Regions from separate parts of the Homo sapiens genome. Here regions 2, 3, 4, 5 and 6 are each reported to be linked to region 1. The links are microRNA targets in miRTarBase. Many come from high-throughput screens and were not tested one by one. Region 1 holds a microRNA gene; each other region holds the end of a gene's coding sequence.

The links. Region 1 holds the annotated microRNA hsa-miR-5692a (CAAAUAAUACCACAGUGGGUGU, at 1,386-1,407, opposite strand). A microRNA usually pairs through its seed, bases 2 to 8, with sites in the 3' UTR of a target mRNA and lowers its output. Matches are read on the target gene's strand: a 7mer-m8 pairs with bases 2 to 8, a 7mer-A1 pairs with bases 2 to 7 and ends in A, and an 8mer does both.
Region 2: the mRNA of SLC5A7 is a reported target of hsa-miR-5692a. Seed matches in the 3' UTR shown: 7mer-A1 at 4,140-4,146.
Region 3: miRTarBase lists TFCP2L1 as a target of hsa-miR-5692a. The part of its 3' UTR that is shown has no 7-base or 8-base seed match.
Region 4: miRTarBase lists PLCG1 as a target of hsa-miR-5692a. Seed matches in the 3' UTR shown: 7mer-m8 at 1,030-1,036 and 7mer-A1 at 1,063-1,069.
Region 5: the mRNA of ZNF611 is a reported target of hsa-miR-5692a. Seed matches in the 3' UTR shown: 7mer-m8 at 1,316-1,322, 7mer-A1 at 2,112-2,118, 7mer-A1 at 2,116-2,122, 7mer-A1 at 2,120-2,126, 7mer-A1 at 2,124-2,130 and 7mer-A1 at 2,387-2,393.
Region 6: miRTarBase lists SPRED3 as a target of hsa-miR-5692a. Seed matches in the 3' UTR shown: 7mer-A1 at 2,001-2,007, 7mer-A1 at 1,997-2,003, 7mer-A1 at 1,993-1,999, 7mer-A1 at 1,989-1,995 and 7mer-A1 at 1,985-1,991.

The regions. Positions count from the first base shown.
Region 1 is chr7:97,959,997-97,965,071 of GRCh38, reverse strand. It overlaps MIR5692A1 (microRNA 5692a-1), which reads right to left and starts at 1,414; the gene lies at 1,346-1,414. The region is part of intron 1 of CZ1P-ASNS (CZ1P-ASNS readthrough); the gene reads left to right. MIR5692C2 (microRNA 5692c-2) reads left to right here and starts at 591; the gene lies at 591-667.
Region 2 is chr2:108,010,548-108,015,622 of GRCh38, reverse strand. SLC5A7 (solute carrier family 5 member 7) reads right to left here. Exons shown (of 9, transcript NM_021815.5): 9 at 1,629-5,075. The coding sequence ends at 4,762. Among named protein-coding and RNA genes, the nearest start is that of SLC5A7, 27 kb to the right of the region's middle.
Region 3 is chr2:121,219,643-121,224,717 of GRCh38, reverse strand. It overlaps TFCP2L1 (transcription factor CP2 like 1), which reads left to right. Exons shown (of 15, transcript NM_014553.3): 15 at 331-5,075. The coding sequence ends at 377. Among named protein-coding and RNA genes, the nearest start is that of TFCP2L1, 63 kb to the left of the region's middle.
Region 4 is chr20:41,174,118-41,179,192 of GRCh38, forward strand. PLCG1 (phospholipase C gamma 1) reads left to right here. Exons shown (of 32, transcript NM_002660.3): 31 at 7-194; 32 at 350-3,509. The coding sequence ends at 392. ZHX3 (zinc fingers and homeoboxes 3) reads right to left here. Exons shown (of 4, transcript NM_001384317.1): 4 at 4,338-5,075. Among named protein-coding and RNA genes, the nearest start is that of MIR6871, 7.6 kb to the left of the region's middle.
Region 5 is chr19:52,700,230-52,705,304 of GRCh38, reverse strand. ZNF611 (zinc finger protein 611) reads left to right here. Exons shown (of 6, transcript NM_001161499.2): 6 at 1-2,492. The coding sequence ends at 368. Among named protein-coding and RNA genes, the nearest start is that of ZNF611, 32 kb to the left of the region's middle.
Region 6 is chr19:38,395,160-38,400,234 of GRCh38, reverse strand. It overlaps SPRED3 (sprouty related EVH1 domain containing 3), which reads right to left. Exons shown (of 6, transcript NM_001394336.1): 6 at 648-4,755. The coding sequence ends at 4,090. Among named protein-coding and RNA genes, the nearest start is that of FAM98C, 5.4 kb to the left of the region's middle. RefSeq lists a silencer at 1-76.

The DNA.
Region 1 (5,075 bases):
ACATTCCCCTAGAATATGACGAATAATATCACAGGAGGTACAGCCCCTGTGATTTACGAGTAACATTTCTATATAATATTACACGTCATAGCACTGTGTGACTCTGTGTACACCCTGTATGACATTAGGAGTAACATCCCACAAAACAATTACGAATAATATCACAAGGTGAACACCCTCTGTGACATGAGGAATAACGTAGTTTTAGGATATTATGAATGATATGACAAGGTGTACACACCCTGTAATGTTAGGAGAAATAGCCGTCTAGGATATTAGGAATAATGTCACAGGGAACACACCCCCTGTGACATTAGGATAATACGAATGATATGCCAAGATGTACACGCATTGTGACATTCGTACTAATATCCCTCTGGTATACTATGAATAATATCACAGGGTGTACATCCCTGTGACATTAGGAGTAACATCCCCCTTGAATAGGAGGAATAATATCACAGGGGGTACACACCCTGTGACTTTAGGAGTATCAGCGCCCTGGAATATGAGGAATACTGTCCCAGGGTATTAACCACCTGTGACCTGAGGAGTAACATCCTGTTGGAATATTACGACTCATATCACAGTGTGTACACCAACTGTGATATTAGGAGTCCTATTTATTTTTAGGATATTAGGAATAATATCACAGTAGGTGTACACAAATAGTATGTACGCCCACGGTGATATTAAAAGTTATATCTCCCTAGGGTATTCCGAATAACATCACAGTGGGTGTACACCCACTGTGATATTTGAAGTCATATCTCCCTAAGATGATAAAAAAATCAAAGGGTGGACCCTGTCTGTGACATCAAAAGTAACATCTCTGTGGCTATTCCGAATAGCATCACAGGGTGTACACAGCCTGTGACGTTAGGAGTAGCATCCCCATAAGATATTCCGAGTAATATCACAGGGTGTACACCCCATGTGACATTAAGAGCAACATCTTCTTAGGATATTACGAACAACCTCACAGGGTGTACGCCCCCTGTGACTTTAAAAGTAACATCCCCCTAGAATATTAGGAATAATATCATGGGTGTACACCCCGTGTGACATTAGGAGTAACATCTCCCTAGGATATTACAAAGAACATCACTGGGTGTACGCCCTCTGTCTTATTAGGAGTAACATCCTTCTAGGATATGAAGAATATCACAAGGCGTACACACACTGATATTCGGAGAGATATCTCCCTAGGATATAAGGTGTATCACAGAATGTACACGCATGGTGTACACCCACTGCGACATTAAAAGCAATATCTCCCTATGAGAGTATGAGAAATATCAAAGGGAGAACACTCTCTGTGATATTAGATGTAATGTTTACCATGGATATTACAAATAATATCACAGGGTGTACACACATGAGGTACACCCACTGTGGTATTATTTGTACTGTCTTAGATATAATTCTAATATAACACGGAGAGCTATAACTCTGTAGTATCTGAGATATTACAAATAATATCACAGTCTACACATAGTGTACATAGTGTACACCCACTGTGAGATTTACAGTAAAATCTCCCTATAAGACTACAAATATTATCGAAGTGTGTGCACCCCCGTGACCTTAGGAGTAACATCCTTCTGGATATCAGGAATCATATCATGAGGCATACACACCCTGTGACATTTTGTACACTCTTTGTGACATTCAAAGTCACAGCCCCCTAGTATATTACGAATAATATCAAAGGCGGTTGATGCACACGGTGTACACATCCTGTTACATTAGGCGTAATCTTTTTCTGTGATTTATGAATATCACAGAAGGTGTACACACATGCTGTACACTCCAGGTGACATTAGGAGCAACACCCCCCCAAGATATTAGAAATAATATTACCAGGGTTGCATACACATGGTGTACTCTCCCTGTGACATTAGCAGCAACATTCCCCTAGAATATTACGAATACCATCAGAGGGGGTGTACACACATAATGTACGCACCTTGTAAAATTAGGAGTAGCATCTCCCTACGATGTTATGAATAATATCACAGAAGGTGTACGCACATGGCCTATACCCCACGTGATGTTAGGAGTTACATCTTTCTAGTATGTTAGGAATAATACCACAAAGGTGTTCACACATGGTTAACAGCATATGGAATATTAGGATTAACATCCCTCAAGAATATTACAAATAACATCACAGGGGCTGTGCACACATGGTGCACATGCCCTGTGACATTAGGAGTACATTTCCCTGGCACATTGCAAGTAATATCACAGAGTGTACACCTTCTGTGACATTTGGAGTAACATCCCCTAGGATAGTATGAATAATATCACAGGGTGTACATCCCCTGTGACCTGAGGAGTAACATCCTTCTAGGACATTGTGAATAACATCACAAAATGAATGCACAGCCCCTGTGACACGAGGAGTAACATCCACCTAGGATATTCTGAATAATATCACAGAGAGTACACCCCATGTGACAGTAGGAGAAACCTCCCCCGAGGATATAACGAACAAATACAGAGGATGTACACGCGTCGTGTCACTAGCATTAACATCCATTTAGGATATTACGAATATTATCACAGTGTGAACGCCCCCTGTAATATTAGGAGTAACATCCCCCTACAATATTGGGCACCATATCATACGGTGTACACCCCCTGTGACATTAGAGGTAACATTTCATTAGGTTATGATGAATAATATTACAAGGTGTAAGGCCCCTGCGACATTTGGAGTAACATTTCCATAAAATATTACGAATAATATCACTGTTTGTACACCACGGGTGACATTAGGAGTCCCAGCCTCCAAAATTATTATGAATAACTTCACAGGGCGTACACCCTCTGTGACATTAGGAGTAACATCTTTCTAAAATATGACGAATAAAATCAAAAAGTGTACACCCCATGTGACATTAGAAGCAACATTGCCCGAGGATATAAGAAATAATATCAGATTGTGTACGTGCATTGTGACATCAGTAGTAACATCCCTTTAGGGTATGACGAGTATTATCAGAATGTGAATACCATCTGTAACATTAGGAGTAACATCACCCTACAACATCGGGAATAATACCACAGGGTGTACACCACCTGTGATATTAGTGGTAATATTTCTTTAAGATATTATGAATAATATCACGGGGTGTACAGCCCCTGTGAGATTAGGACTAACATATCCAAAAAAGCTTGACAAATCATATCACGGTTTATACACCAAGTGTGACATTAGGAGTAACATCCCCCAAAACTATTATGAATAACTTCACAGATTGTACACGCTCTGTGATATTAGGGGTTCACATCTTCCTAGAATGTGAAGAATAACATCACAGGAGGAACACCCCCGTGATATGAAGGGTAACATCACTCTAGGATATTACGAATAATATAACAAAGTGTACCCAATTTGTATGGTAGGAGTAACATCCCCTGGGATACTACAAATCATAGCACAGAAAGCGCAGCCCCTGTGACAACAGGAGGAACATCCCCTTAGGATATTATGAATAACATCACAAGGTGTACACACATTGTGACATTAGTAACAATAGCCAGCTAGTAGATGGTGAATAATATCACAGCGTGTACACATTTGCAACATGAGGAGTCACATCCCCCTAGAATATGAAGAAGAATATCACAGGGTGTACACACCCTGCGACTTTACGATAATCATCCCCCTGGATGACTACAAATAATTTCACAGGATGTGAAACCCCTGTGACAATAGGAATAATATACTTCTACGATATGACAAATAATATCACAGTTTGTACACCCACTGTGATATTAAAAGTTATACCTCCCTCAGATATGGTGAATAATATCACAGGGTGTACCCTCTGTGGGATACTAGCAGTCATGTTTACCATGGATATTACAAAGAATATCACAGGTGTAAACACATGGGGTACGCCCACTGTGATATTAGGAGTTATGTCTCTCGAAGATATTAGAAATAATATCCCAGTGGGTGTACCCCATGTGTGTACACCCACTATGATACTTTAAGTAATATCTCTCTATAAGATTACAAATAATATCGAAGGGTGTACAGCTCCCGTGACATTAGGAGTAACATCCCCCTACAATATTGGGAACAATATCACATGGTGTACACCCCTGTAACGTTAGGGGTAACATCCCCCCAGAATATTACTAATAATATCACAAGGTGTACACGCATTGTGACATTAGTAGTAATATCCAGCTAGCATATTTTCAATAATATCACAGAAGGAACACACGTGTGACATTAAGAGTAACATCCCCCGAGAATACTTAGAATAATATCACAGGGTGTACACCCCCTGTGACATTAGGAGTATCATCTCGCTAGAATATTATGAATAATGTCACTGGGTGTTATCTTCTGTGACATTAGGAGTATAGACCCCTGGAAAATTATGAATACTTTCACAGGGTCTACACCCCTGTGACATTAGGAGTAACATCCTTCTAGAATACCACGAATCATATCACAATGTGTACACCCCCTGAGTCATTAAAAGTAAAACTGTCCTAGGACATTACGAAATAGAACACAGGGAGTACACCCCGTGTGACATTAGAAGTAACATCCCCCTAGGATATAATGAAGAATATCAGAGAATGTACCTGCATTGGGACATGAGTAGTAACATCTTAGGATAATACGAAGAATATCAAAGGGTGTACACACATTGTGAAATTACTAGTGAACTCCCGCAAGGATATTACGAATTTTATGACAGGTCCGACTCGCCCTGTGACATTAGTAGTCACCTATTCCTACAATATTATGAAGAATATTAAAGGGTGTATAGGACCTGTGACATACGAGTAATATTTCTAGAGAATATGACACGTAATATCACCGTGTGTACACCCCGTGTGACATTAGCAGTAACATCCCACAAAACTATAACGAAAAATTTGACAAGGTGTACACCCTCTGTGACATTAAAAGTAACATTTCCCTAGAATATGACGATATTATCACAGAGTGTACACCCTCTGTGATATGAGGAGTGACATCTTCTAAAAACAATACAAGGAATTTGACAGGGTGTAGAAAACCTGTGACATAAGGAGTGACA
Region 2 (5,075 bases), not on the chromosome of region 1:
ATATGTAACTAACCTGCACAATGTGCACATGTACCCTAAAACTTAGAGTATAATAAAAAAAAAAAAAAAAAGAAGACTTACAAAAATAAAAGAGATCCAGAGAGTTTCAATAATTCTCCCAGCTCCGTCCATTTTCAGAACCCAAAAGAGCGTGATTCCTGGCCCCATCCTTCTACTGTATTCTCTTCAGCTCCACGTGTGGCACTGCACTATCAGAAGCTGTTTTCAATTACTTCTTTCAGTAATACCTACTGCTCTAAATTCTATCACTGGACTTTTAGTCTTACCTGGTTTATGCTTTTAACTGCCTCTATATGACAAACTGATAAATCAACACAGCAGTTTGGCTTCAAAATACATAATGCAATATCTCTTTTAAATAGATAACTATAGTTTTCCAACCAAAAATAAAGGCAGAATCACCACATATTCTCTGACTTTAGAGAATTTAAATAAGATACAATGACTGTTTTTACTGTTTTGTAACTTTTCTTGAGGTGACAGTATAAAAATTGGAGAAACCATAATTATCATTATCCCATAGCTTTCTGGATCTCTCTCAAGAATGTCTGTTCTAGGAGAATGTTAATGATCAAATTTAAGCTCTCTAGATACAATGGTTAAAATGAAGATAACGTCCACGGGCCCTAATATTATATTCTGATACAGTCTCTTTTCTGGCTCTTAATAATTCCCCCCACACTATAGATTTGTGATAAAGCAAAAATGTATAATCTCCAGAAGTGTGTCCACAAGACGACAACTCGATGTGATGTTGCCCTGGCATACCTACTTATTCTTTCCTTCATTCGTCCCTACACTCATTATAGGCCCTTCTGCCCTATATACATCCAAAGGCACTAATGCTTATTATAATTAAGGTATGAAAGGCCAAAGTTCTTCTGAGAATGTATATAACTACATGTCTAAAGACATCTTGAGAGAGTAAGATGAGAGATACAGAGCACATAGTTGGAGCACAATGACAGCCACTTGTCACTTAGAGATTGACTTCATACAACAACTGTTGGTCAGCTGTTTGGTTTGAAAAATGCAGATCTTCTTTATGTGATTGGAACGAATATAATTGGAATCACCTGGCTGACTCAGTCAGTAAGCATGAGACTCTTAATGGATATTATTCTATTGATTTCTTTGATTTACAAAAGACCTGTGTACAATGGTAGAATGTCTTTTCCAAGAAAAACAATTTACATTTGTTTTTGAGCTATGATATATATTGCCCCAAGACTTACGTGAGGTGCAGCATTTCCACTTGGCATTTGCCTATCCTCCAGTAATGAGATGGTTTATTTTGATTTCATTGCATAATTGTCTTGAAGCACCATATATACTTAGTTTAAGAGAGGGCCCCCAAAAGCCAAATTTAGACAATGATACCCTAAATTGACCAGCACAATTTAATACATTGCCATTACACTTAAAGCATTTACACAGTTGCAAATATACTTATTTTAAGCATAATTTTATATAATAATTTGACAGACAAAAATATATGTTCTAGAACCATTATATGCATCTGTCTATGAAGTAGCAAACGTACAATAAATTACACATCATACCAGTGTAAATTTACATGAAGGCTAAAACAGAAAAAGAAATCATAATTTATGTTTAAAATATAATGTTAATTTATTATTTCCAAGTAAAAAGAGGAATAGCCATTTTATTAGATTCACTTATTTTAAGCTTATATTCGTTTCATAGTCACATAAAATTCATTACTTGTAAGTGTAGCAATGAAGTTGTATTTTGATGCTGTTTGAAACAACTTGTTGTTGATATTGCAGTCCAGCTACAAGCTTGCTGATTTGAATATGTGTGGGAAAACAAAGCATTTAAATTACTCAAGAAATATGTTACAATCATATCAAAAGTATGAAAATAAAATATATGTTTTCTTCTAATGTTTTATCCACAGGTGTTGCCTTCCCAGATTAATATAGCCATTGTCTAAATGTTTCGTTTATTTTATTTTCATCTGAGGGCAGATTTTGAAAATCAGGTCTACTGATTGAAGCTGGAAGAACATGTAAATGTCTGCATTACTCATTATGTCAAAACAGAGCACATGATGGGTACAAAGTATACTCTTGCACATTTCACAGCTTTGTGATACAACTGTCTTGGAAATTGGGTGGAAATTTATGCACAAATGTGCATAAGTAAAGACCTTGTGACCATTGTTTCCTTCCTTGCAATCTTAAACTTTTTTGTACTTAAAAATCATCTTGCTAACATTTAGCATATTTGTGGATTAATAACAAACTAGTCTTTTGTATACCTACTTTGAGGGTAGGTGAGGAATAATGGGTTAAATACAATATAATATTATTTATTGGCTTAAATTATTTAAGTTATCTAGTTTTAGTACTTTGAACAGGGCAAACATTTTCCCCCTGTTTCTGTCTATTGTGAGAAATTGAATTACGTGGAAGAAATTTTTACTGTTAACCTTTTTTTCCCCACTGGATTTAAGTGTGGTTGTTGGGACAATTGTTGCCCAACAGAATGGTACAACGTAAAGAGAGAGACCTGTAGAGAGACTATGCCTCCCTGTTGCATTATATGACAGTATGAGTGAGGTGTTTCCTGATGCACATGGTGGAAGTCTGTGCCTCAGCAGGTTGAGACAGATGCTCAGGGTGACAGGATGGATAAAAACCGCCATTCAGGTAGCATGCTGGGTAGCATGGTGCATCTGGAATAATGGTGTTTGCCAGGAATTGTAGTCTCCAGCAATTAATTACTTTTATGTGTCAAATGTTTCAGTATCTGTGGTTTTTCTTTAATGAATTTCTTGCCCCTTTCTCTTTTTTCAATCAATACCTGAGAATCGTGGACTCCCATACTTACTGGTTCCAAAAATATACTTCTTCCATGTACTCCATAGGGTACTGAATAGATTCTGAGAAAATAGATGAATATAAGTAATTCTCTTTTCATTTAGATACATATGATATTCAGTGAAGATTTTGAATGCAATGTAATATTCACCATCAAATTTTGAGAAAGCACTGAAAATATGAGACATGTAAAATTATTTAATTTCCTCTTTTAAAAATTATCCTAGACATTAAATTCATGTTTAATGATAAAGATGTATTATTTGATGCTTTGAGACAATTACAATTAAATCTTATAAAAGGAATTCTAGGGTCAAGGTACAACTTTTATTTTTAATGCTAAACACTAAGTTAACTTCATTTTGTTCATGAGTTGCAGAAGTATTTTTGGAAAAGAAGTGCTTTAGTTTCAACAATTCAGACTCACTTTCTTTATGGGATCAGATTCCCTGATCACTTTTCAGCTCATCACTTCACTTTGCTTTTGTAGACATGGCTCCAGTAATTTCTATAATGTGTGACTGGTGTGAAAACACTTGAAATGGACACAAATCATTACACATACACACACACACATACACACACACACACGTATGAGTGTGTATGTGTAACACCAGAAAAGGAGCAAAATAGTATTTAATGACCAATCTCATGAATGTTATCTAGACATCAAATGTTAAAATTGATGGCTTCTTCACTTTAGGACTTATTTTATTTTTTGCTTTCTTCTACATTTTAAAATTCACTATGTACTTTTTGCAGTAGTTATTTGTCTAGTCTCTAAGGCTGGCTTATGTGAAAAAGTGCCAAAGAGTAGATGCTGTAACATTAAATCTTTCCTATTAATGAATATCTAAAAATTAGTAGAGTTTGTTTTTTTCTAATTTTACTACTATCAGGAGGTGTTGTGGAGGCTTCCCATAAAGTATTCAATGAAATATACGTAAATTTAGCAGTGTGCCTCTCATTAACCGTAACAGATGCTGTGTAGCTACCTCTCCTTACATAAGGCCTAATTTCACTTCCAATATTAACTTATGTATTAATTTATATGTTACTTATTTTATCATGGGGCAAAACTTTATATACTTGAGATAAAGACAAAAATGTACTGTTCTTCCTATTACCTTCTGTTTAATGAACTTATTGCTTTAAGGTTGCTTAATAATCCTTCAGGTACTGTTGTTTATGCATATAGTAGCTATGGAAACATACAAATTAGCCCAGTGCTCTTCTACAAAGATGGATTCAGTTTTCCTATCACCTTGCACATAAATAAATGCCAATACATAATCTTTTGTGTGTTTTCTTTGCCCGTGCTCAGAATATTACATGCCATTAATAAAAGAATAACAAATTGCATATTCAGCAAATGTTATAGCTCAGAACATGAAAGAAGGGGTTAATCATCACACTAAGAAAAATCAGCTGGTTAATTCATTGCACCATTCAAGGGAGTGACTGAAGTTATTCTCATAGCTTCGTGCTATAATGAAACTAGACTCATCAGTGCATTAGCAAACAAAGTTTGTATCAAAACTGTCCAATTTCCTTTTTCTTAGGCTTTTTCACATCTACTTCCTTTTATCATAACAAATATAAAAACTCTATTTGGCCCTTTGTTCTCTAAGTGGAACTTTACTTATTTTTTATACCTAGCAAAACTATCTAGCATCAAAATCAATACTACTATGGATGAGAAACAAAGTTGTTGCTTTCATAGGTGCTTCCTTCTAGCTTGGCTTGTATTTGTGCAATTGCACTTTATATGAATTTTTACTCTCCTGAACATTGTTTATATTTTTAATATATTTTTGTATGCTGCATACCATCTCTCCAGAACTACCCTATTACAGTGTTCTGTTTGCAAAAGCAGTATTTTATTTAGATGGGGTCACTGTAAATTATCTTCAGTCCCAGACCCTTCTGGACTGGAATCAACATCAAGGAAGGCCTCTTTATTGGTGAAAGTTGAGCTGAGGGTCATGCTCTGTCGTGGCTTCACAAGTGCAAGTTCATCTAATTTAATATTTTCATTTTTGACAAGAATTGTCTTATCCATGTTTTCTTCACTGTGTCTTGCAACAACAGCATCAAATACATCTAATTTAGGTGGCAAGGTTCCACTTTCAAATAGATACTTGGCTAGATAGGAGATGCAAATGTTGGTTAAGAATGATGTAACCATGGCAAGTGTTTTAAATGGAA
Region 3 (5,075 bases), not on the chromosome of region 1:
AGCCACCACGCCCAGCCACCACCAAGTGTCTTTGGGGCCTTGGGGGCCATAATATCCCTGAGAACCACAGTTGTCCAAATCCTCCTTGGAACGTAGGTTTTCATCCTTGGGCCTGGGGCTATGGTAGAAAGACCTATTGTTAAAAAGACACTAAACGAGGCAGATGTCAGGGCATGTGAGATCCCTGCTTCTGCCAGCACGCTTTGCTGTATGCAGCCCTATTTTGGTGGTCTTTGCTGATACCCTAACAGCGTGCCTTTTGGGACTCCCCAATACTGTGGCACTGCACCTTTTTTCCTGTGAAATACACCCAGTGTTTCTCTCTTGCAGCTGAGAGCAATGATGGCTACCACATCATCCTGAAATGTGGACTCTGAGCAGCAGTGGACCTCATACCTGTCTCCAGCTCCCAGCCCTGTGGATCCCCGTGGATGTAGACATTGCCCCACTGTAAGCTGTGGCCTCACCAGGCAAGCTGAGGCCAGGAGGGACCCTGCCCAGTCTGTGAAAGCTACAGAGCACCAACCAGCAGAAGCCTGTGGACACCAAGTACGGTGTACAGAAAGCCAGTGGCTCCTTTCTCCCTTCCTCTTGGCCTCCAGATTTTGAATGGTTCCTTGTTCTTTTCTATTGGTCCAACCCTGACGTTCTAAAAGGGCAAACAGTGGAGACGTCTGCTCTGAAATCCCTCATCCCTTAGTTGGAAGCTGATTGGGTATCTTGGTGCTGCCTGTATTGGTCCCTTCTGACCACTCTCCTGCCTCCAGAGAAAGCTCTGCTTCACCCTGGAAGCTGGTACCTTTACCTCCTCCTCTGGGAGTTGGCTGCATGGCCAGCACTGCCGACTTGATGGGAGCAGTTTGCCCTCATTCTCCTGTTTCAGGTTTGCTTCCCTTCTCAGTGACCCTGGTGAGCATCCGCCTTTCCTGTTCTTGGATGAATTGATGGGAGTGGGGCTATTCTGTGCCTTCTACCTCTTTCTTCTCTACGTTGTTTCTAAGGATCTGCTGCTGCGGAACCCAAAGATGTGCTCCTGTCTCTGCACTGGCGCATTGGCATGGTAGATGCCACAATGTATGTGCACGGCCTTTCTCAGAGACATTAGTTCTGAGGCCCTTTGTGGGGAGGTTAGGGGGATGGTAATAGAAAAAGACTATTTTATTTCCTGGCAATCACGGGTAAGGAGGATTAGGAATGAGTATTCCATTCCTAGGTGTCATCAGATGACCTTGACCACCACAATACCAGGCCCTCTTGGATGGACTTATAGAAAGTTAGAGAAGACCTTGTTGAACCGCTGCTAAACTTGCCACAGGAGCGATGTGTTTTCTCTGAGTGCCCCTCACTTACATGTTTATCTTTGTTTGTAGAGGCTATGTTTAGGATATTTTGCCTGCATCAGAATGGGTGCATCATCTTTCTTAATGGCCTAACTATCGGGAAATTTGAGTGTCAGTAACTGTGGTAGACTCAGAAATTCGTCTTTGTCTTGCCTCTGGTTCCTGGGATCCAGTGATCTCTACTGGCCCAGGGCTTCAGCTCTTGGTTAATTTAGGTTCATGGGGAACCCTCTGACCACCTGAATGGGATGTCATAGCTTCTAAATGGAGCTTCTGTGGAATGAAGTGCTAGACTGAAGGACTACCAGAATAAAACAGGGTCTACAATGGGGAGAACTTGTTTTATAGATGAGGAAACCAAGGCTCAGAGGGGCAAAGTCACCTGCATGGTAGCACATAGTGATAGGGTAGCGATATAAATTTATCATATAAACCAGGACATCTCGGAATAAAAGGGGCTCTGTTAGTCATTATGTTGGGTAATAGCCGTGGCATTCCTACAGAACAGAGTGAGGACAGGCTCCTGATTCCTCTTCCTTCTTTAGAGGAGAAGCGGGGAGTGGGTTAACTAACAGCTTTATTGAGATGTCATTCACATGCCATTCAGTTTACCCATTGCTAGTGTCCAATTGTATTCACAGAACCACCATCAATTCACAGAATTACAGTCAACGTTGGTACATTTTCATCACCCCCAGTAAAACCCCGTACCCTTGGTCTGTCACTCCTGCTTTCCTAACTCCTGCAGTCCAAGGCAGCCATGAATCTACTTTCTATGTAAGATTAACCTACTCTGGACATTTCATATATCTGGAATCATGTGATATCTCTTTTGTGACTGGCTTCTTCCACTGAATGTTTTCTAGGGCCGTCCAAGTTGAGGATGTATCAGTACTTCATTCTTTTGTATTGCTGAATAATACTTCATTGTATAGATAGACCACATTTGTTTATTGATTCATCAGTTGATGGACATTTGTGTGTTTTTACTTTTTGGCTACTCTGAATGATGCTGCTATGAACATATTTCTACAAGATTTTGTGTGGACATATGTTTTCATTTCTTTTAGCAATATACATAGGAGTGGAATTGCTAGGTCTTACAGTAACTCCGTGTTTTAACTTTTTGAGAAACTGCCAGACTGTTTTCTATAGCAGCTGTACCATTTTACATTCCCACCAGCAATGTATCCAGGTTTCAATTTGTCTACATCCTCATCAACACTTGCTATTATCTGTCTTTTTGCTTTTAGCATCCTAATGAGTATGAAATGCTATCTTGTGGTTTTGATTTGCATTCCCCTGATGGCAACTGATGCTGAGTGTCTTTTCCTGTGCTTACGGGCCATGCGTATTTCTTTGGAGAAAGGTCTATCCAGGTCCTTTGCCTATTTTTAATTGAGTTGTCTTTTTTTTTTTAAGTTTTCTGTTTTCCTAACCACTAGACTACCAGGGATGAGCCTTCTTTTTATTATTGAGTTGGGTGAGCTATTTGTATATTCTAGACGCCAGTCTTTTATCAGGTATATGACTGGTAAAAATGTTCTCCCCTTCTGTGGATTGTTTTCAGTTTCTTGTTGGTGTCCTTTGAGACACAAAACTTTTTAACTTTGATGATTTCCAAGATACGTATTTTTTTTCTATTGTCACTTGTGCTTTTGGTGCCATATCTAGAAAACCATTGCCTAATCCAAGGTCAAGAAGATTAATGCCTGTGTTTTCTTCTAAGAACTATACTTTTAGTTCTCACAATGGTCTTTGATCCATTTCGAGTATATTTTTATATATGATGTGATGTAGGGGTCCAGCTTCATTCTTTTGCTTGTGGATCTCCACTTGTCCCACTGCTGATTATTGAGAAAAATATCCTTTCTCCACGGAATTGTCTTGGCATCCTTGCTAAAGGCCTCTGCTTCTTACTGGATCTTCTTTCCTGGGACATGGTGTCGTTGGGAAGCTTACCTTTTTTTTTTTTTTACTTAGTCTGTGTTTGGTTCCACCAGTTTTATGCTGCCTTTCTACTCTGTTCTTGCTGTCTCCCTCTTTACCTGAGTCAACGGTACTGAGTCCTATCTCTCTCTGATGTTCCCCAGTCTTCCTTGGTGCATGTTCTAGCTCCACACACTAGTCCTTGGAGGAAGGTTGAGACCAATGATTTCCTGTTATGAGTCATGAGGAAACTGAATCACCTAGAAGTGGAATAATGTGCTCAGGGTCACCATAGCCCATTAGTGGAAGGACCAGGACTAGACCTTTAGTCTTCTGAGGTCCAGCCCCTTAGGCTGTCTGTCATCACTGTACCCAAGTGATGTCACTACCAAGGCCAAATGATGGTGGGCTAAATTTTAATTCTCAAAAGTGTAGGAGGCTAATATTGTCTTCTAAGTTCCAAAAGAAGATGTAATAAAAGTCTGTTACCTTAAGTGTGCTATTAGTAGAGTCTTCCATTTTTCTGGCATGCCCCTGGCATCTGCTCTTCTTACCTTCTCGTGGTTGTAGTTAAAGCTTATAGCTTATGAAAGAATAGAAAATAATAAATACCAAAAAAAAGTACACATGGTAATTTGGTACCAAAATATCTCAGCTGCCTAATTTAGCAGCTCATCCCTTCCACAGGGGTCAGATGAGCTAAAGCTCCAGGTTTTATTTTTCATTTGATTGACATACAGAAAAGCCATAGCCCTTCCCACAGCTGTCCAGGGTCTTTCCTGTGAGTCCGGAGGTGCTGGCCTATTGAGCAGGACAGCTCTTCCCAGGGCATTCCCACCAACCTGTGGCTTCTGAACTGTAGCTTCTTTTTACAGTGAACCCCAGAGGGAAATAAGACAGACACATGTGCTCAGGCCACCATCTTGAACTGGAAGCCCAAAGCTGAGTTCCTTACTCTTAGGTCGTCACGGTTTTTGCGGGGTATCTGCAAGGTTGAGATAAACCCTTTCCTGTTTACCAGGTTGTCCTTTCTGGATGAAGGGACAGAGGCTGTTGAATGGAGGAATAATAGGTTTGCTGGAGGAGGGGCATGGTATGCCTGTGGAAAGGACAGGATGGGGTGGGGAGGTCGAGGCTTTGACTTGGGGTCCTAAACAAAGGTCAGGTGTTGCCCTAGTGACCTCTTGCCCAGACAGCCCAGAGCCCCTTACACAGAGCTATTAACCTAGGGAAGGCTTTACCAGCAGTGGACTGGAGCCAGCCAGGGTCACAAGTTTCCAAGTCCAGCATTGCTTCAGGGGCTGGCCTGAGTAACTGAAGATCTGAAAATCATTAACAAGTCGATGAAATAAACGGAAAAGCCTCTTAGGCTGTTGTCAGTGGAGCAGAGGGAGAAAGTCCCTAGGCGCTCAGAGGGGGTGAGAAAGCAGTGGATGATTGGGCGGGGGTGGGGGATTAGATGTTGACACTGCCTGGGGTGTAGGAAGAGGAACAGAGAACCCAGAGTCAGGGTCCTAGATCCCAGACCCTCGCTCAGTATGAGTCTCTTTGCCTCTCTGGGTCTCTATCTCCTCCTCTTACAAATACAGGCTTGGTGATCTCTGAAGATGGCACCAACCTGCCATGAAATGAATCTGAGGGGTTTTCCCATTTTTCCCTCCATCAAAATCGTACAAAAAGCTGGACGTGGTGGCCCATGCCTCTAATCCTAGCATTTTGGGAGGCCGAGGTGGGAGAATCACTTGACGCCAAGAGTTCGAGACCAGCCTGGGCATCGTAGTGAGACTCCATCTCTGTCTTTTTGAA
Region 4 (5,075 bases), not on the chromosome of region 1:
TTGAAGCAGGAGAATGGTGACCTCAGTCCCTTCAGTGGTACGTCCCTGCGGGAGCGGGGCTCAGATGCCTCAGGCCAGCTGTTTCATGGCCGAGCCCGGGAAGGCTCCTTTGAATCCCGCTACCAGCAGCCGTTTGAGGACTTCCGCATCTCCCAGGAGCATCTCGCAGACCATTTTGACAGTCGAGAACGAAGGTGAGGAAGATGGAGGGGTGCTAGAGCCAGGAAGGCAGTGGCTAGGTCCTCCTTCTTCAGTGTTTCTTTCTCCTGGGTAGAAAAGTTGTAATATTGTCTGGCATTGGGCTGCAAGGCCCTGCCTGCCAGTAAGGACACTCTTCCCTTCTGTCCAGGGCCCCAAGAAGGACTCGGGTCAATGGAGACAACCGCCTCTAGTTGTACCCCAGCCTCGTTGGAGAGCAGCAGGTGCTGTGCGCCTTGTAGAATGCCGCGAACTGGGTTCTTTGGAAGCAGCCCCCTGTGGCGGCCTTCCGGGTCTCGCAGCCTGAAGCCTGGATTCCAGCAGTGAATGCTAGACAGAAACCAAGCCATTAATGAGATGTTATTACTGTTTTGGGCCTCCATGCCCCAGCTCTGGATGAAGGCAAAAACTGTACTGTGTTTCGCATTAAGCACACACATCTGGCCCTGACTTCTGGAGATGGATCCTTCCATCTTGTGGGGCCAGGACCATGGCCGAAGCCCCTTGGAGAGAGAGGCTGCCTCAGCCAGTGGCACAGGAGACTCCAAGGAGCTACTGACATTCCTAAGAGTGGAGGAGGAGGAGGAGCCTTGCTGGGCCAGGGAAACAAAGTTTACATTGTCCTGTAGCTTTAAAACCACAGCTGGGCAGGGTGAGAAGCTAGATGCCCCTGCAGTTTGGCCCTGGAGCCAGGGCAGAGGAATGTAGGGCCTGCATGGAGAAGGGTTCTGCCCTGCCTGAGGAGGAGGACACAGCACAAGGGCACATTGCCCATGGCTGGGAACATGACCCAGCCTGAAAGATACAGGGGATCATGTTAAAAATAGCAGTATTATTTTTCGTCTCAATGGTATTGTAACTAAGTTATTTACTCCTCCTGCTCCTCACCCCTGTAGGGAAACCTTGGAGAGGAGAGTGGCAGGTGGGCTGCCTGCTGTGTTAAGAGGACTTAGTTTGTGATGTAAGGCACTGTCAGGAATGGGGGGCGGGCCAGGGTGGGAAGAGAAGAAATAGCAGAGCCTATTTTGGTGAGGTTTTTTGTTTTTAAGTCAAAGAAGACTCAGTATGCTTTCCCTGAGGAATGAAAAAGGGATTGAGGAGTTGCCTGACTCCTGGGTGGGTGGGGTACAGGCAGTTAGGTGCTGAATGAAGCTGCCATCCTTGCTGCAGCTTCTAACTGGTAAAAAGATCCAGGGATGGAGATGGGAAGGTTAGAAAGGCAGCCCTCACCTCTGAGGACAGAGGCCGGGGTCCAGGCCCGTGGGCGCAAAGGTGCCTCATAGCATAGCCAGCATTCAGCACACACAAACCTACTGCCCACATTTGGGCTCAGGGTTGGCCATTTGCTAGTTCTGCTGCCCTCTTAAGATCTGACTGCCAAATAAATCATCCTCATGTCCTTTTTCCTTTGACTTGTATGCTCTTTCGGGGGCTCAGGAAAGCCTGTTGCATGGGACATGCTCACTAGAAACAGTCGCCAGATGATTATTCTGCAGTAGAAGCAGGTAGGAAATTTCTGGAAATTTCTCAGGTTAAGCAGCAAGAGCTGTAACCCCTCCTCTGGGCTAACAGGAGTTGTGGGTCCACTCTCTCCTGCCCACCCTCTGAGGGTGTGTCTGAGCAGAGTACATCCTGCCTGGGTTCTTTGTGGCCAGCCAGTTTTGGTGGTGAGCTGGAAACAACCAGAGCCCCTTTCCAGTTCCACAGAAACCTCTCCTTTCAAAAATGTTGCATTCAGTTCGTTAACACTGCCAGGTGCCATTCTGATTGCCTCTAGGACTTGGCAGCTGAAATCTCTGGGCCCTTTCAACACAGTTGAAAGGCCCTTCTCTTCCTGAAGCTCTGTTTCCATAGTTGGCTGTGCTGGGATGGAACAAAAATGACGCCACACAAAAAATTTAAGATAGATCCGGTTCCGTGGATGACATGAACTGATGATAGCCAGTATCAAACAGCGATAGTGCTCAGGTTCTTGTGTGACTTTCTTTTACAGCTTCACAGTCCCAGTTCATAGAGAGGAGGGTGGCTTTTTCCCATACACAAGAAGGTGGTGGGTGGGAATTCACCTGGGCCCTCATGATCCATGTTTCCTCTCTAGGTTTTTATGGCCTGGAGAGAAAGGTTTCCTATCAGAGAAGGAAGAGGACTGTGTAGGCCCTTCTGTTAGGGCCCATCCACGTTGGTTAGGACGTCCTTGGCGTGTTTGTTAGTGTTGACCCTTTTAGTTTTCATCAATACGTATCTCTATTTGCTGAACAAGTGTCTTTCTGGAACACAACCTGGGGAACAGACAGCTCTGCCTTTCTTAAGGCAGCTTTGTAGACCTGAGGCTCACCTCTCTTGGGCTCTGTAAGACATTGCCTTTGCCTCACTGCAAATGTTTTGATTGTTCTTCCTAGTGGAAAACGTGCCAACTCTCAAGCAAATTTAAAGATCATTTTCACTTCAAGATTCCTCCAGACCTGACAAATGTTGATTGACCCAGAAGGCAGAGTGTTTGTTGGTGGGGAAGACCCTTACTTGGGGCCGAATGCTTTGGCATCAGGAGTTGTTTGCCCCATCCCATGCATGCAGGCCGTGTCCCTACAGTGCGACAGCTCAGGGTTATGACCTGTGGAGTCTCAACCCTAACAGCACATTAGCACCACTTGGGGAGCTTCTGAAAAATACTGGTACCCGGGGCCTTAGCATAGGTATTGTTCAAAACCTCTCAAGGTGATTTAAATGAGTAACAAGGGTTGAAAAACCCTGATTTTGGCAGCACAAACCAAAAGAGCAGGCAGGGCCGGGAGAGGGAAGTCAGTGGTACCAGAAGGTAGATGGGCTCCCTTGCAGGCTCCTTGTTCTCCTGCCATCACCAGTAGAACCTTCTGGCTGACAGACCAGGGACAAGTAGACTGGGTTCAAAGTGACAGACCTTTCACTTTCAACAGCTTTGGCTCAGCAGACATGTACACATACAAAGTAGAGCCTACAAGGTCAGGGGCATTCTGCCCCCGCCACAGGACTAAAGACTGCCCTGCGGGAAGATGGCAGGAGCAGTTTCTGACCTCAGTTGAGTATCTGTGGCCATGAGCAGAAAAGGCAGGGGTCTGCCTCCTGACCAAGCACATCTTGAACATCACCTGAGAGCTTGAACATCACTAAGGACCTAGACACTCACTTGTCTTTCAACTTGAGCCCATCACTCACCATGTGAGTTCTGTTGAGGGTGGGTAGAAAGCAAATAGGTTCAGGTTATCCCACCAGACTAACTCGGTGAATGAAAGGATCATGCCTTCTTCACATTTTAATTAAATGGATCAAGCACAGTCTCAGACTGCAACTCCTGTCTTCTCTGGGTACTTTAGTAATTCCCAGGGGACTTGTGCTTAGGGGTTAATCTAGGCATTCTGTTCCCTGCCTGGAGGAACCCCACAGCAACCCCCCTGGCTGGCCGCTCCTGCGAATTCCACCCATAGTATCCCAAGTGAGTCACTGCCTGAGTCTACCCACTACAGCATTCAGCTGATTGGCTTTGCCAGTTGCATGCCAGTTTGGTCTAGTTTCCAAGGACCTGGTTTTTGGGATTCAACACACACAGCTGCTTCCCCATGACATAAGCTGGACTCCTATTCTGGTGTCCAGAATCACTGCCTGGCTCCACTGTAGGTGATTTCATTTCAAAGGACCCTTTTTCCTTCTGTCCCAGGCCTTCAGGGCCACCCCAACAAAATTCAAATGCTTTGGGTCTTAGAAGCTGGGGCTTTAGTCTTTTTCCTCCAGAAAGCCCCTGGGTCCTTATGCATATTCCCTAACCCCCGACACCGCCCCAGCAAATGACAGGCTATGCTTTTCAGCACTCTCACAGGAAACAGAAAAGAACTTGCCAGTGTCCTCTCACCAGATGATACCAGGTTTGACTGTTTGCCTTTGTCTATTTAGCATAATTTCTAAAATATCATAGTTTTCTCATGTAGAAGCCAGTGTGGTGATCTCAGCAATGCAGAAGACAGTGAGTTGGAACTTCTCTGGTGAGCTGAGGGAAACTGCCCCACTCATCCACTGGAGTTTAAGATCCACAGAAGTGGGCAAGAACAAGTGAAATGTTTTTGGCTTTTTTCCTGACTCCCCCACAAAATAAGTCAGCAGATGTGAAATATATTTATGTTTTTATTTAGGAATAATCAAAAGGTTTGAAGTACCATTGAGGCCCATTTCAAATTGTACAAGCAATTTGTCCGTGTTCCCCTCCCTTATCCAAATCCACAGATACAAAATCTAGGAAATGTGCAATTTGCATCTTAGAAATAGCAGCATCCCCACAGGGGACCTCGTGAGGCCTGGAGATTCAGCCCCAAGAGGGCAACCCCACTCCTGCCTCAGCACGACCACAGTCCAAACCGAAGTTAAGTTCCATTTTTTTGTTAAAACGTTTACCCAGGGTAAAGAATTCCCATTCTACCCAAGGCTTAAGTGATAGAGTATGCTGTTTTCTCGGTTTGGTCTCTCACACCTGGCCATGGCAGGAGATGGGACCCTCTTGCAGAGTTTGGCTAAAGTTTCATTGTGCCTCAAAACAAACAAAAACAGGGCAGTTGCCTCTTACTTGTTTAGCACCAAGATGATCACCTTTTCAGCCATCTCTCCTGACAGCAGACTGCTCAACAGTCACTCCCCAGTCTTATTGCCCAGAAGTCCGGCCACAGGGAACAAGGCTTTGTGCTGAAGACCAAAATGCAAATGGGTGCTAGAAAACCAGGAATCAAGACCTTGTCAGGAGGCATCTACAGGCCTTTGGCAACCTCCCTGACTTCCACAAAGGCTGCCCTCAGTAAAACTCAATGAACAATGGCCAGCAGGGGAGAAAGGAAGGTGGGCGTGTTTTCTCTTTAATA
Region 5 (5,075 bases), not on the chromosome of region 1:
ATCATAGAGTTCATAGTGGTGAGAAACCTTACAAGTGTAATGAGTGCAGCAAGACCTTCAGTCGCAGGTCATCCCTTCATTGCCATCGTAGACTTCATAGTGGTGAGAAACCTTACAAGTGTAATGAGTGTGGCAATACCTTCCGTCACTGCTCATCCCTTATATACCATCGTAGACTTCATACTGGAGAGAAATCTTACAAATGTACAATTTGTGACAAGGCTTTCGTGCGTAATTCACTCCTGTCAAGACATACCAGAATTCACACTGCAGAGAAACCTTACAAGTGTAATGAATGTGGGAAGGCTTTTAATCAACAATCACACCTTTCACGTCATCATAGAATTCATACTGGAGAGAAACCTTAGAAATGTGAAGCATGTGACAAAGTTTCCATTTGGAAATCACACCTTAAAGACATAGGAGAATTTATACTGGAGAGAAAGCTTACAAATGTAAGGTTTCTGACAAGACTTGGGAGTGATTCACACCTGGAACAACATACTGGACTTCACACTGGAGAGAAACCTTACAAGTGTAATGAGTGTGGCAAAGCCTTTGGCAAGCAGTCAACACTTATTCACCATCAGGCAATTCATGGTGTAGGGAAACTTGACTAATGTAATGATTGTCACAAAGTCTTCAGTAATGCTACAACGATTACAAATCATTGGAGAATCCATAATGAAGAGAGATCTTACAAGTGTAATAAATGTGGCAAATTTTTCAGAGATCGTTCACATATTGCAGGTCATCGGTGAACTCATACTGGAGAGAAACCTTACAAATGTCATGACTGTGCCAAGGTCTTCAGTCAAGCTTCATCCTATGCAAAACATAGGAGAATTTATACAGGAGAGAAACCTCACAAGTGTGATGATTGTGGCAAAGCCTTTGCTTCACGTTCACACGTCATTAGACATCAGAGAATCTATACTGGACAGAAATCTTACAAATGTCATCAGTGTGGCAAGGTCTTCAGTCCAAGATCACTCCATGCAGAACATCAGAAAATTCATTTTTGAGATAACCGTTCCCAATGAAATGAGTATAGCAAACCATCAAGCATTAATTGACATTGGAGTCAATTCAGCATTGACTTGAGTTTGTGTTGACTTAACATTGAGTTCAAGCCTTTATTGACATTCAAGTGTTTATGTTAAGAGGATGGGGCCAGGTGTGGTGGCTCCGACCTGTAATCCCAGCACGTCGGGAGGCCAAGGCACATAGGTCACTTGAGGTCAGGAGTTTGAAACCAGCATGGCCAACAGATGTGAGCCACTTTTCTCAGCCTGTTTTTTGTTTCTTATTTTCTATTATTTTTTTGAGCCAGTACTTTTTAAAGAGATAGTACTTTTTTCAGTTAGTACTTTTTGAAAGGGATATATCATAGTAATTTTTAAAAGGGATATGAGGCCAGGCACGGAGGCTCATGCCTATAATCCCAGCACTTTGGGAGGCCGAGGCAGGCAGATCACGGGGTCAGGAGATCGAGACTTTCCTGGCTAACAGGGTGAATCCCTGTCTCTACTAAAAATACAAAAAATTAGCTGGGCATGGTGGCTGGCGCCTGTAGTCCCAGCTACTCCAGATGCTGAGGCAGGAGAATGGCATGAACCTGTGAGGCGGAGCTTGCAGGGAGTCGAGATCGCACCACTGGGCTCCAGCCTGGGCGACAGAGTGAGAGTCTATCTCAAAAAAAAAAAAAAAAAAAAGGATATCAAAGCCTCGGTACGTGGTGGCTCATCCCTGCAATCAGAGTACTTTGGTCGACCCATGTGAACTGGTCACCTAAGGTCACAATTTCAAAAGCACCCTAACATGGTGAAACCCCATCTCTACTAAAAATACAAAAGTTAGCCGGGGGTGTTGGTGTGCACCTTTAGTTCCAGCTACTTGGGAGGCTGGGGCATGAGAATTGCTTAAACCTAGGAGGTAGAAGTTGCAGTGAACCAAAATTGTGCCACTATACTGCAGCCTGGGTGGCAGAGTGAGTCTCCATCTCAAACAAACAAAAAATAACAAAAAAAGACCTCAAAAATGCTTTTCTTCTCGTATAATGGACTTCCTTCTTTTTCTTTCTGGTTCCTCTTCATTTCTCTCTTTATTTTTTATTTATTTATTTATTTATTTTGCAGTTTGAGTTTGAGATAAATCTAAGTTATAAAAGTTGTATTTCTTAATACATAATGACTTCTGAAAGATGCCTTTGCAGCATCCTATAATCAGCTCACATCATTCGTTTCTGTACTTGTATATTTTCCAGTTATTTTCCGGTTGACCCCAGAATTCGTTAGATTTTTTTAAAAAACAATTTCAAAATAGTTGCTGTTTTAAATTAGTTGCATCCAGTTCATATCAATGTCTGCATGCTTTCTAGTCTTTGTTATTTATTGAAAACCTTTGGTACCTAAACTTAAGTTTGATTGTTTCAGTGTGTACTTGGTAAATATGTCAGTGGCCTTTTAACTAAACATCAAAATGTACTTTAACCAGTTAGTCTGTTTTTCAGTTTTCTTTCCTTATGTCCTTTGTTAAAATCTTGATCTGGGAGCTATTTATTGCGTGTTTCCCTCAAGGCCCTCTGGTCCATTCTGGAAAAATGTTGAAACATGGGCTGGATTGGCATAGAACGCTCCTCCAAAAGCACCCGTGTATTCTTTTCTTTTCTTTTTTGAAATGGAATCTTGCTCTGTCGCCTTGGATGGAGGGCAGTGGTGCAATCTCAGCTCACTGCAACCTCTGCCTCCTGGGATCAAGTGATGCTCCTGCCTCAGTCTCCTGAGTAGCTGGAATTACAGGCACCCACCAGCATGCCTGGCTAATTTTTGTATTTTTAGTAGAGACGGGGTTTCATCACGTTTGTCAGGCTGGTCTCAAATCCTGACCTTGTGATCCACCCGACTTGGCCTCCCAATGTGATGAGATTACAGGTGTGAGCCACTGCTCCCAGCCTCGGTTTTTTTTTTGTTTTTCTTTTTGTTTTTTTGGGGGTTTTTTTTTGAGATGGAGTTTTGCTCTTGTTGCCCAGGCTGGACTGCAATGGTGCGATCTGGTGTCACTACAACGTCTGCCTCCTGGGTTCAAGTGATTCTCCTGCCTCAGCCTACCAAGTAGTTGGGATTACAGGTGCCCTCCACCACTCCTGGCTAGGTTTTTGCATTGTCAGTAGAGACAGGCTCTCACTGTGTTGGCCAGGCTGGTCTCAAACTACTGACTTCTGGTGATCTGCCCACCTCGACCTCCCAAAGTGCTGGGATTACAGGCGTGAGCCACCGTGCCTGACCACTCATGTATTCTTGATTGAAACAATTTGCTTATGTCTTAGTTGTACACCTGACCTTCTTTCCCTGTTTCCAAGGTCAATAGCTATGTGTTCACAACTCTGCATTTTATAAATGTTACTGTGATTTTCTTGTAAGGAAGAACAAACTGTCAGGAGTCAATGGCCTCAGAACCTTGCAAAAGAAGTTTGTTTCTTTTTTTTCTTTTCTTTTTTTTTTTTGGAGACGGAGTTTCGCTCTTGTCCCCCAGGCTTGAGTGCAGTGGCACGATCTCGGCTCACTGCAACCTCCGTCTCCCGGGTTCAAGTGATTCTCCTTCCTTAGCCTCCCAAGTACCTGGGATTAGAGGCATGCACTACCACTCCTAGCTAATTTTGTATTTTTATAGAGACGGGGTTTCTCCGTGTTGGTCAGGCTGGCCTCAAACTCCTGACCTCAGGTGATCCACCCGCCTCAGCCTCCCAAAGTGCTGGGATTACAGGCTTGAGCCACCGTGCCCGGCAAAAGAAATTTCTTTAGCCCAGGTTTGTGAAAGAGCCTTCTCTAATTTTCCAGGATGGGGGTGATAAGATCAACCCTTCCCATTAGTCCCTGCAGGCCCCCATGTAAGAATTCAGGCACACCTCACTCATCTCAGACCTTCTCAGGGCAACTTGGTGAAAATGTCTTCCAATCTGAGCCCCAGTGAGCCTCCTTGGAACTTGGCGATGAGGGGCTACACCAGAAAAGCTCAACCCTAGTGACTTTGACCCCTGAAATGATTGACAAAATGGAGTGCGTGTGTGGGTGTGGCTTTTTTTTTAAATTTTTTTGAGGAGAGGAGTGCCCAGTTGTGATTAGAATTTTCAATGGGATGCAGTGCCCTAAAAATGAAAAACAAAAGCAGAAGAATGGAAGAAACAGAGGTAGACTCAGACACAGAGACCATCTTCGGGGCCTTTCTCTGTATGAGGACATCACAACAAAATCTAAAGCAGGTCATGTCAGTCCCTGACAGGGAACCCTCCACCAGCTTCCCGTGTTCCCCAGGACAAAAGCCCAACCCCTCACTGTGGCTCCACAGCCCTGTGTCCAGGGCCCCTTCCACTGTCCAGCCTCCTCCTGGGAGCTTGCCCTCATCTCATGACTCTCTCCGCCCCAGTCATATTTGCTTTTCTCTTTTCCCAAACATCAAAACCCTTCCTGTCTCAGGTCGTTGTCCCTGGTTTTACCCTACGTACCCTGTCACTTTCTCCTCCTTCAGGTCTAGGCTCAGAGCTGTCGCCCATGCCCTCCCACCCCCGGCTGTAGTTCCCTTGTCCATCAGTCTGTATCACGTTACTCAGGATTCATTGTCTGCATCAATCACATCAGAAATGCATTTTTTTTTTTTTTTTTTTTTTGAGACAGAGTCACTCTATCTTTCAGCCTATGAGTGCAGCCTCTTGATCTTGGCTCACTGCAACCTCTGTCTGCTGGGTTCAAGCAATTCTGGTGCCTCAGCCTCCCAAGTAGCTGGTGTGTCTGCCACCACACCCGGCTAATTTTTGTATTTTAACTTCCATTTTATATTATTTTTGAGTCTGTCTGTCACCAAGACTGGAGTGTAGTGGCGCCATCTCGGCTCACTGCGACCTCCACCTCCCGGGTTCAAGCAATTCTCCTACCTCAGTCTCCTGAATAGCAGAGATTACAGACACTTACCAAGCCCGGCTACTTTTTGTGTATTTAGTAGAGACAGCGTTTCACCATGTTGGCCAGGCTGGTCTCGATCTCCTGACCTCAAGTAATCAGCACACCTCGGCCTTCCAG
Region 6 (5,075 bases), not on the chromosome of region 1:
TTTCCACCTGGAATCACTTGGGAGACCAAGGCAGGTGGATCACTTGAGGTCAGGAATTCGAGACCAGCCTGGCCAAAATGGTGAAACCCTGACTCCACTAAAAATACAAAAATTAGCCGGGCGTTGTGGCACCCACCTGCAGTCCCAGCTACTCAGGAGCCTGAGGCAGGAGAATCACTTGAACCCAGGAGGCAGAGGCTGCAGTGAGCAGAGATCATGCCACTGCACTCCAGCTTGGGTGACCGAGTCAGACTCTGTCTCAAAACAACAAATGCCAACTCCTGAGGAGGGTCTAACCTGGCCACTCTAGCTAAAATGGCATGTATCCCCCATTCCCACTTTTTTTTTTCTTTCTGCTTTCTATCATTTCTAACATATTAAGTCATTTACTTATTGTCTCCCCTACTATAAAGCTCATAAGCTCTTTGCAGGAGGGACTTTTGTCTGTTCTGCCCACTGCTTTATCTCCAGTGCTTTCAACAGGGCTTGGCACATAATTAGGTGCTCAATAAATGCATTTGTTGAGTGTCTTATAAAACTCAGCTTGAGGGTCTGATGGGAGAAGGGAGAATTTAAGTAGGAGACTGGTTTAGCAGTTCAGGAAGGTGAGTGGGTGGGGTGCACAGAGGCAAATAAATAACACAGGCTGAGACTTTGTCACAGACATTTCTTGGAGCAGATCTCGTGCCCCCTCCCCCGATGACAAGGCTGGGTCTTTGGCCCCCATCCTCCCCCACCACTTCAGCCTGCACTGACACTAACAATATTGAGGTCACAGACTGGCTTAGAAACAAGATCAGGAAGATATATGTTGGGGTGCCTCCCCCAAATCTGGGGGCCAAGCATCCGATCTGAGGGGCAAGCGGCTGGGAAATTGGGCCTGGGGGCTCCAGGGTCTGAGGTCTGCCTGGCTCCCAGGGCGGCCCTCCATGTACCCCTGATTTGGGGGCAATGAAGGGGAATCATGGATCAGAGGTGGGTCTCAGCAGGGAGCAGGACTGGGGGACCTGGGAGAGGCGCTGCTGGGAAGTGGCGGCCAGGGGACCTTTCCTTAGCCCCCACCGCTTCATCTGCAGATCCCACAGCACCGTACAGCACTCTGGTCCCCCGTCCCACCCCTCCCCAAAACGAGGTAGGTTAAGAATGGAGCTTCCCCCCCGCCCACCATGGAAGGGGGGAGACCGAGGCACAGAGAGGGGCATGGGGACCCAGGCTGCCCCAGCCCCCAATCCCTCCGCCCTCAGCTCTGGTGGGTCTGACAGTGATGAGAGCTGGGCAGAGTGGGGAGGGGAGAGACACCCCCGCTTTTCTCTCACCCATCCCAGGGTCTGGTTGGGAGTGCTGAATCTCACAGGTTCCGGATGTAATAAATAGTTAATAATTTAAAGGAAGAGACAGAGGACCTATCCCTTGAACCCCAACAAGGCCATCCAAGTCTGGGTAATGAAGAAAGGTTAAGTGCACAGTTCCAGATGCTTGGGGCCAGATGCAGGTCCCAAGCCCATACAACATTGAGACTGTCTTGCTCCAAGACCTTGAGGCCCCCATACAGGACACCAGATCTTCGATCCACTGGAAGCCCCATTTCACTTGGGGGAAAAAAGCCTGTGGCACCCCCCTTTGCACAGAAGAGACTCAGTGGGCCATGAAACAGGCTTTCAAACTTCCTGAAGCAACTTCTCACTCTAAAGTGGAAGAGAGCCAGGTGCAGTGGCTCATGCCTGTAATCCCAGCACTTTGGGAGGCTGAGGCAGGTGGATCATGAGGTCAGGAGTTTGAGACCATCCTGGCCAACATGGTGAAACCCTGTCTCTACTCAAAATACAAAAAATTAGCTGGGTGTGGTGGCACATGCCTGTTATCCCAGCTACTCGGGAGGCTGAGGCAGACGAATGGCTTGAACCCGGGAGGGGGAGGTTGTGGTGAGCCGAGATTGTGCCACTGCACTCCAGCCTGGGTGATACAGCGAGACTCTGTCTCAAAATAAATAAATAAATAAATAAATAAATAGGAAGAGAAGGGGTTAATGGAGGGGGAGAACATAAAAGGTGGGACTTGAACCTGGACTAGGAATTAAGGTTGTGCTTGAAGGAAGGTCTGCAAGACTGGGGGCTGTGGGACAGCAGAGCCATAACTAGCCTGAAAGTTTCCATTGCACACACTTCTTCTGAGGGCACAGTGTGGCCAGCAGACTGGTGTGACTTCCAGCTCCTCGAAACCCTGGGCTGTGTGCCTTCACTTAATGAAGACCCTGCATAATCATCTGTGACAATGCTGGGTCCTAGACGTGACAGTGAGGGAGCTCCTACTTGGTCCTTTTTTTTTTTTTTTAGAGACGGTCTCACTACATTGCCCAGGCTGGTCTCAAACTCCTGGCCTTAAGCGATCCTCCTCCCTTGGCCTCCCAAAGTGCTGGGATTACAAGGCATGAGCCACTGTGCCCCACCCTGGGTGGTCCTACAATGAGTTCCAAATGGTAGGGATCCCACCCTAAGATAAAGGGGTAATTCTGAGGATTGCTGGGGGCTTGGGCTGGGATCCTTGGGACCAGAATTCCAGAGGCTGGAACCTTGGGGTTTTAGGGGCCTATGGATGACAGGATTCAAGGGGCAGCAGGTCTCTGAGGTCCGACAAGTGGGGATGGGGGAATCAGGTGTAGAGGCAACTTGGGGTTCATCAGACTAGAGAGGTTTGAATCCAAAGAAATCTGGGGTCTGAGGGTGCTGGGGTCTTGGGGCACCTCGAATCTGAACGCCTCTGGTATGGAGGGATGAAGGTCTTGGATCAGGAACAATCCCAATGTTGTAGGGTCTTGAGCCTTGCATTTGGGGGTCAGTGGCACCTTTGGGGTATTGGATCCAGTGCTCCTAAAGTACCTTAGGGTCACTCAAGGGCTGAGGGCCAAGGGCATCAGAGGTCTGGGTCACCATGAGCATCCCCTCTTCTGGGAGCTGGACTCCCAGCCCTTAAGGGGTTGGGAATCTGTGGGTAGAAAGAAGCTGAAGATTCCAGGACATTTGGGGTCTCAAAATCCAGGTCCAGGAGGGACTGCAAGAGAGGGCTATTTGAGAACTCGAGACCAGTATCTCGGGTCCTGAGGTGTTGGTGGCCTTCAGTCGCACATCTGAGGACCCCAGGCACCTCTGAGTCCTATAAATGATATCCAAAGCTCCTGAGAACCCTGGCTTGGGGGTGGGTGGACCTATGGAGGTCTTTGATCCCTGGCTTCCAGAGCATCTTGGTGTCTGATATCTGGATCTTGGGGGCTCTGGGATGGGTCTCCCAAGTCATTTTGGTAAGAGAACAGCTCGTGTTTCAGTATATCCGAGCACTCAGTGCATCTTAAGAGTCTGGGGTCCCAGGGTGTCTGGGAGTTCCCTGGACATCTTAGACTTCAGTGTTCCCGGACTGGAGGCCAGGTCTGTGGGCACTAAGTCGTGGGTAGATTTGAGGGGCAGCATCTGGAGATTCCAGAGCATAACAGAGTTTCAAACTCTGTTTGAAACTTTCTCAGGGGTCCTGCTGTCTCAGGGGTCCTGGGACTATGAGAATGTCTCAGATGTGGGGGCACCAGGTCTTAGGTGAATATTCAGGAACTGTTTGTGGGTGACTCCAGGTCCTATGGTCTCAAGATCTGATCTGGGAGTTGAATAAAGGCAGAGCCAGTTATGGGCAAGTCCTGACTAATTGTGGGGCTGTAATCTGAGGGACATGGTGCCAGGCGTGACCGGGTTCTAGGTTGTTCATTTCAACAGGGACCTGCCCTTTTCGGGATCTATGTGCTCCCTGGCCTTTCTGAGATGCAAAGTATGGGGACGCCTGGAGCCTCCTCGTGGGGTGTGGGGGTGGGGGAACGCCAGAACTCAGGACGCCTGGGACTTCTTAGACAGACACCCCAATGAAGCTGGGGCTGGGGTCTCTCAGTCCTAGGTTTGGGTTCCAGGTTCCAGGTCTGAGATCTCTCAATCCAAACTCAAGCTCCAAGTTCCGGATGTGCCTAGGTTTGGGTTTTAGGTCCGAACGGAGTCCGGGGTCCTGGACCCTCAATTTTGGGTCCTCGGGCCGGCTAGGGGACCCACCAGGCCGTCCTCACCGCGCAGCCTCCTCGTGGCGACCCCCGCAGCCGGCGCAGCCGCATCGCGCTGCGACCCAGTGGCACGCGCGCAGGGGCGCGTAGCAGCAGAGGCAGGGCACTGCCAGGGAGAGCGCGGCCAGCGCGGCCCAGCGCGCGGCGGGGCGCGGGTGGCCCGGCTCGCAGGCGCACGGGTCCGAGAAGTCGCCCTCGGCGTCCGACAGGCAGTGGTAGAGCAAGCTCTCGGCGCACCACAGGCAGCTTAGACGGCGCACCAGGAGGCGACCCGGGTCCGGGGCCTCTGCGCAGCGGCCGCCACGCCCGTCTGCTCTGCGACGGAAGAGCGCGCGGCAATGCACGCAGCGCGCTGCCTCCTCCGCTTCCGGGGAGGCCTTGGCAGGCGCAGAGGATGGGCCCGGGCCGGGGGGTGGGCGAGCGGGGGGCGCTGGGGGCGCAGCCTCGGTCAAAGGGGCAGGTAGTGCCGCTGGGGGACCCAGGGCAGCGCCCCTCAACGCGCCGGTCTTGGCGAAGCGCACGACGCAGGTGGACAGGGCGAGGGGCGCGGGTGGCCCGGAGCGCCGGTAATCCTCGTAGCCGCGGCCGCCCCACCCCAGGCCCCCTGCCCCTGCCAGGGGCTCTGAGGGTTCCGGAATCCCCGTGAACGGTAGAAGCGGAGGGTAGCTCTGCGGAACGAAGGGACAAACAGATCAGAATCCATCCCAGTCTTAGCCTCAAGGATCCAGTTCCCTAGCGCACTCTTGGGTCTGGGATTCAGATTTTCAAGACCCCAGCTTGCTTCTCTCCCAAGGTCCCTCAATCCCCACTTTTCTCCAGGGACAGACAGAGGAATCCACGCACCAACCCCACACCTTTAAGGACCCAGAGGCCGAAGGTTCCTAGTCCTGTCCTCTCTTAAGATCCAAGAGCCCCAGCTCCCAGCCCCCTCTACCTTGAGATCCAGGGGTTCTGGACCCAGCCACCTCCTCCTTAAAGGCGCAGGAGT